Linked DNA regions of Homo sapiens: region 2 is linked to region 1. The links come from fine-mapping of genetic effects on gene expression. A gene starts in region 1. The other region holds a variant in brackets. All regions are shown on one strand. Distances are between the middles of the regions. Region 1 holds the start of DRC8 (dynein regulatory complex subunit 8). Region 2 has its middle 29 kb from the start of KIF26B.

The links. PIP is the estimated chance that this variant, and not a neighbour inherited with it, causes the effect.
Region 2: its variant is fine-mapped to the expression of DRC8 in whole blood (TOPMed, PIP above 0.99).

Annotation. Positions count from the first base shown.
Region 1 is chr1:244,968,351-244,971,257 of GRCh38, reverse strand. It overlaps DRC8 (dynein regulatory complex subunit 8), which reads right to left and starts at 1,576. Exons shown (of 8, transcript NM_032328.4): 1 at 1,215-1,576; 2 at 815-929. The coding sequence starts at 839. It overlaps LOC124900416, which reads left to right and starts at 688. Exons shown (of 4, transcript XM_054328428.1): 1 at 688-932; 2 at 934-1,003; 3 at 1,006-2,907. The coding sequence starts at 721. The coding sequence ends at 1,272. EFCAB2-AS1 (EFCAB2 antisense RNA 1) reads left to right here and starts at 389. Exons shown (of 2, transcript NR_111907.1): 1 at 389-446; 2 at 1,279-2,907. RefSeq lists enhancers at 1-283, 2,722-2,907 and silencers at 454-543, 554-913, 924-1,103, 1,374-1,513.
Region 2 is chr1:245,124,792-245,127,698 of GRCh38, reverse strand. It overlaps a transcript of DRC8 not described here. Among named protein-coding and RNA genes, the nearest start is that of KIF26B, 29 kb to the left of the region's middle. The variant T/A (reference allele first, on the strand shown) is at 1,226.

The DNA.
Region 1 (2,907 bases):
GTTTTTCGTCGTTATTAAAATTGCTGTTTGGGTGTGTGTCTTTTTTTTTTTTTAAGACAAGACACTAGGCCAATTGCGCGGCGCTAGCCGGCGGCGGGGCAGGCATTTCGGAGGACCGGGAAGCTCGGAGGCAGCGGCTGTGACCTCCAGACCGTCCTCCTGCGTCCTCATTAAGGAGGCAAAATGGTGGCCGCGAACGCCATCAGGCTGCGCCAGCGCGGGGTTTCGGCGCAAACAGAGGATCCCGTCAGATTCAGGCGGCCAGAACTCCTCCTCACCCAGGCCACCCCCCGGGGCCCACAGCCTGGACAGCTACGGGCGTGGCGCCTGCGGCACCGAGACCCCAGGCGAGAGTGTGGAGGCGGCGGCGGCTTCCCCGCGACCGTGAACAACGACGCCATTATCAGCACCCCCTGCCGGCGCCTCCGGCGCAGCCCGCGCAGGATGCAAGGCCCGGCCTCCGAGGGAGGGGGAAGGAGGACGGGGCGGGAGGAGGGGAAGAGGGTGAAGAGGGCGGGAGGAGAAAGAAGAAGGCGGGAGGAGGGGAGAGAGAAGAGGGAGGGAAGAGGGGAGAGAGGCGGGGCGGGGCGGGGGAGAGAGGCGGGGCGGGGCGGGGCGGAGCGGCGGGCCGGGCGGGCTACGGGGACGGGGGCAGGGCGACTGCTGCTGCCGGGTGGCCCCCTCCTCAGGCCGCCCTTTCCCTGCGGGTGGGAACTCCAGATGGACGAGGGCCCACCCCACCCGGCGCTTCCCCGTGCAGCCCGGGGTCGCGGCGGGCGGCGAGGGCAGCGGCTCCCCGGCTCCCCTACCTTACCTTCCCTGTCCTTCTCGTCCGCCATCTTGCTGCGGAGCCGGTCGCCTGGGAGATGCCTAACGATAACCTCGGCCGCGGTGTCCCGGCCTGCTCAGCGCCCCGCGGCGAGCCTGGCCTGGAGGAGGGGCCGCTCTGAATCCCGGGGGAGGAAGACCCTTGGGCGGGGCGGGGCGGGGAGGAGGCTCCGAGCGCGCGCCCTGTCCCCGTTTCGCGCCACGACCCTCGCGCTGGGGGAAGACCAGAGGCCCCGTCTGCCACCCGGCCCCCGGCCTTGTCCCTCCAGACCCGAGGCCGGAGCCGGACTTGTCCCGGGCCTAGCATGTTGCTTCATCACACGGTCCCCAACCCCTCCTTTCCCTTATTTCTCATCCATTTGGGGACAGCACGCGCGCGCACACACCCCTCGCCCCCTCCTGTCCTGTTTGTGCGACGTGGCGTTGCTCGATTTTTGTTGTTAACTGCAGATTTTGAAAAGCGCCGGAGAGCTAGGTGAAGAGCTGGGCTCCCAAGGGGGTGATAGAACCAGCCCGCGGCCCGGCCTCCTCCTCCCGCTTCCCATTCGCAGCCCGCCTCCCGCCGGGAAGCGGCCCGGCTGCTGCAGAACGGCCGCGCCTGCCCTCCCGGTTTCTCCCGTCCAGTCTTCACCGTCCTTTCCCAGAGAAAGCGACAGCACAGCCTATGACAACCGAAGCTAAAACGGAAAAACTGGGCCGGGCGCAAGAGGAAACCAGAGCCATTCGACTATTGCTAGAGGAGAGGAATAGCTGCAGGAAAACATGCGCAAAATAGCACAAACATTGCGTCGTCAAGGCTGCAATGTCTAATACAAAATAGAAGGTTCTCATAGCAACAAAAACGTGCCCATGTTGTGCTCAGTATTACATGCGTTAAAATGTTCTTAGTTGTGAAATTTGACATGACCGCTAGTTAAAGTTACAATGGAAGTTTTAAATCCCGCTTTCCGAAAACTTTGCAGCTATAGCATGAAGTTAAATTTTTGTCTTATTTTCTGGATAAGTTTACTATACTGGAACATAGTAAAGCTCTTTTTATAAAGAGCTTTGAATAAAATACCTAATGATGTGGTTGAAACGAACACCTATTTTCAAAACTAATCTTAAGTGGTATTTCAGTGCATATGTTATGTAAAAGCAATTTATAAACTAAATTTTAAGAGCCTTCAAAATACAAGGTACTCGTATTTAATGACTTAACAGTTTTAATGCTTTTATTGTTTCTATAATCTCTCAGGAAATCCTAAAACTGACTATATTTTTCTTTATTAAAATAACTTTTTCTGTAGAAGATACCCATTTGGCGCTGTGATCAGCATTCTACTTGAAATTGAATATAAACAACTGAATCATTACAAAATGGCTCATGTTAGAAGATACTTAAAACGAATACAATCTTGTACAGTAAATGTTTAACACCCCAAAATAACGAAAAGTAATTATTAGCATTCATTTATATCTAAATCTCAGTCAATATGATCTAAATATTTGTGTTTAAAGACTCCCCCTTTCCATATAGATAATGAAGGGCTTTGAAATAAGTGTAGGAAACCCTAAGTTTGGTCTCAGGCTTCCTATTCATTCACTATGCTTTTTCGTGTGCTGTTTACAGTTTCCTTTTTCTGGAATGCCTTTCCCTGCTTTTTTCCCCCGCCAACATTTCAGCTTCCCACAGACACACATTTGTGCCCTCCTGGTTGTCCTGCAGGATGACCTTTGTTTTTGTTTTTGTCTTTTGTTTTTCGAGACAGGGTCTCGCTCTGTCGTCCAGGATGGAGTGCAGTGGTGTGATCTCTGCTCACTGCAACTTCCGCCTCCCGGTCTCAAGTGACCCTCCCACCGCAACCTCCCAAGTAGCTGGGAGGAGCGGCGCGCGCCACCATGTCTGGCTAGTTTTTGTATTTTTTGTAGAGACAGAGTTTCCCCATGTTGCCCAGGCTGCTCTCAAACTCCTGAGCTCAAGCGATCTGCCGCCTGCCTGGCCCTCCCAAAGTTCTGGGATTACAGGTGTGAGCCACTGTGCCTGGCCAGGATGACCTTTTTGAAGTCACCTAGTCATTGAAGCTTTCCCTCTCAGCC
Region 2 (2,907 bases), 160 kb before region 1:
GCGCCTTGGTCTTTGTTTTCCTCTCCATTTTCTTTTTCTTTTCTTTTTTTTTTTTTTTCCTAGATGGAGGTATGCTCTTGTTGCCCAGGCTGGAGTGCAGTGGAGTGATCTCGGCTCACTGCAACTTCTGCCTCCTGGGTTCAAGCGATTCTCCTGCCTCAGCCTTCTGAGTAGCTGGGATTACTGGCACCTGCCACCATGCCCAGCTAAATATTGTATTTTTAGTAGAGATGGGGTTTCAACATGTTGGCCAGGCTGGTCTCGAACTCTGGACCTCAGGTGATCTGCCCGCCTCGGCCTCCCAAAGTGCTGTGCTTACAGGCGTGAGCCACCGTGCCTAGCCTTCCTTCCATTTTCTTTCCCTGTCACTCTCATCCTACCTTAACCCTCAATGATTCTGTTCTTTAATAGGTCTAATTTCATAAATGAAACAGATGCTTTACTCATTATATTATTGTTGAAATCCATGTTCCTTTTTAAAAACACGAGTGAATACTGCTTCTTTAAAAAAACAAAAAACTTCCCTAGAGTAAGTTTCTTTTTACTGAAGGGTCTCATATTTATCTTTTTTTTTTTTCTAGAATCATTGACCCTTTCCAGAAATAAGCTCCTTGACAAGTTTGTTTTCACAAATGCAGGCAGATATAAATATGCCGTCATATTTGTGCAATTTACAAAGTTGTACAATCCTCAAAGTAGTTGATCCTCACTTTCATCTCTTCCTAAACAAAATTGCAATCCAGAAAATAAAAATATCCCTTAGAAAACCTCCACACCTGTCTGAAGAACTTGTGGTGATAATGATCTCCGTGGAGTTGGATGAGCCTCTGAGTCTGACAAGTGTCTTCTAATCTGAAGTTTTGCACCCCTGGTATTTGTGACTATGACCCGTAATCTTCTTTTCACAGTATTAAGTGTGTCGTAGAGCCAGAGTCTGGTTGGCTGAGGGCCTGTTTCTCAAATCTGCGTGGTCATGTCAGAGGCATTTGAATCAGAGTGATGAGGGGCTGAGTAAAATGAGGCTGAGATCTGCTGGGCTGCGTCCCCAGCCTGTTAGGCATTCTAAGTCACAGGATGAGACAGGAGGTCACCACAAGATACAGGTCATAAAGACCTTACTGATAAAACAGGTTGCAGTAGAGAAGTGGCCAAAACCCACCAAACCCAAAATGGTGATGAGAGTGGCCTCTGGTCGACCTCACTGCTCATTATATGCTAATTATAA[T/A]GCATTAGCATGCTAAGAGACACTCCCACCTGCGCCATGACAGTTTACAAATGCCAGGGCAATGTCAAGAAGTTATCCTACACGGTCTAAAAGGGGGAGGAACCCTCCGTTCCAGGAATTGCCCACCCCTTTCCCTCATGAATAATCCAGCCCTTGTTTAGCATATAATCAAGAAATAATCATAAAAATGGGCAACCGGCCCGGCGTGGTGACTCACGCCTGTAATCCCAGCACTTTGGGAGGCCGAGGCGGGTGGATCACGAGTCACGCCTGTCATCCCAGCACTTTGGGAGGCCGAGGCGGGTGGATCACGAGGTCAGGAGATCGAGACCATCCTGGCTAACATGTGAAACCTCATCTCTACTAAAAATACAAAAAATTAGCCGGGCATGGTGGCGGGCGCCTGTAGTCCCAGCTACTCGGGAGGCTGAGGCAGGAGAATGGCGTGAACCCGGGAGGCGGAGCTTGCAGTGAGCCGAGATTGTGCCACCGCACTCCAGCCTGGGCGACAGAGCCAGACTCCATCTCAAAGAAAAAAAAAAAAAAATGGGCAACCAGCAGCCCTCGGAGCTGCTCTGCCTATGGAGTAGCCATTCTTTACTCCTTTGTTTTCTTAACAAACTTGCTTTCACTTCACTCTATGGACTCCCCCTGAATTCTTTCTTGGGCGATATCCAAGAACCCTCTCTCGGCGTCTGGATCGAGACTTCTTTCTGATAACAGTCCTACTATCTGTGGAAGCCCTAGGGTCCTGAGGAACTTGTGAGGACAATCTGGCTTCCTGGGAAAACCCTCAGCCCCAGCCACTAACAGGGCAGGACATATGGGGAGGAAAGAGCCTTGATATCATCCCATATGTTGAAAAACAATTGCTATTCCAACTACAGTTGCTTCTGCCTTCTAAGGCAGGTGTCATGATTCATGTGATGTGAAGATCAAGTCCTTGCCTTCCCTTTGGCTTAAAAAGATTGCTGATGGAAAACTGAGAGAATTTGATTGAGTTGAGGCATAGGATAACCACCAAGTTTGTGCAGGTGCTTGCAGCCCTAAGGGGAGAGGTGCAGAATGGGTGGTCCCTTGCTAAGCAGAGGCTTTGGAAATGCCGCAGCAGGAGGTGGGAGAGTGGAATTGCTCTAGGAGGTGAGACAAGGAGCTGACATTGAGCCAGAGAGGGAGAGCCAAAACCTGGGGGAAGGCTGGGCTACAAAGAAAGGACAGAGCCAGGGAGAAATTTCCCACAGCAGTAATGGTGAAAAACACTTTTTTAAATGGGCGAATATCATGGATGCTCGTAGCAACATTTTCGTAATAGCCAAAAAGTGAAAACAGCACAAATGCTCATCAGCTGATGAAGGGATAAGCAAACATGGCATCTCCAAACAGTGGAACGAAGTGGTGTGATCCTGAGTGGGGTCTGTGAAGCACAGCAGGCTTGGCCAGCCACGGTAACCACGATGGGTCCATCGCTGGATGGGACCAGAAAGTGAATACGCCGAGGCATAGGGTTGTAGCAGAGAAAGAGGTTTCATCGTAGGGCCACCGAAGGAGGAAATGGGAGGAAACGTCAAATCCATCTCCCTGAGGAGTTTGGGGCTGGGGTTTTTAAGGGTTTGGGAGTGGAGACTGGAGTGTGGAGATGGTTGATTGGTCGAAGTGTGCAGGGTGGAGTCATGGGAGAGGGA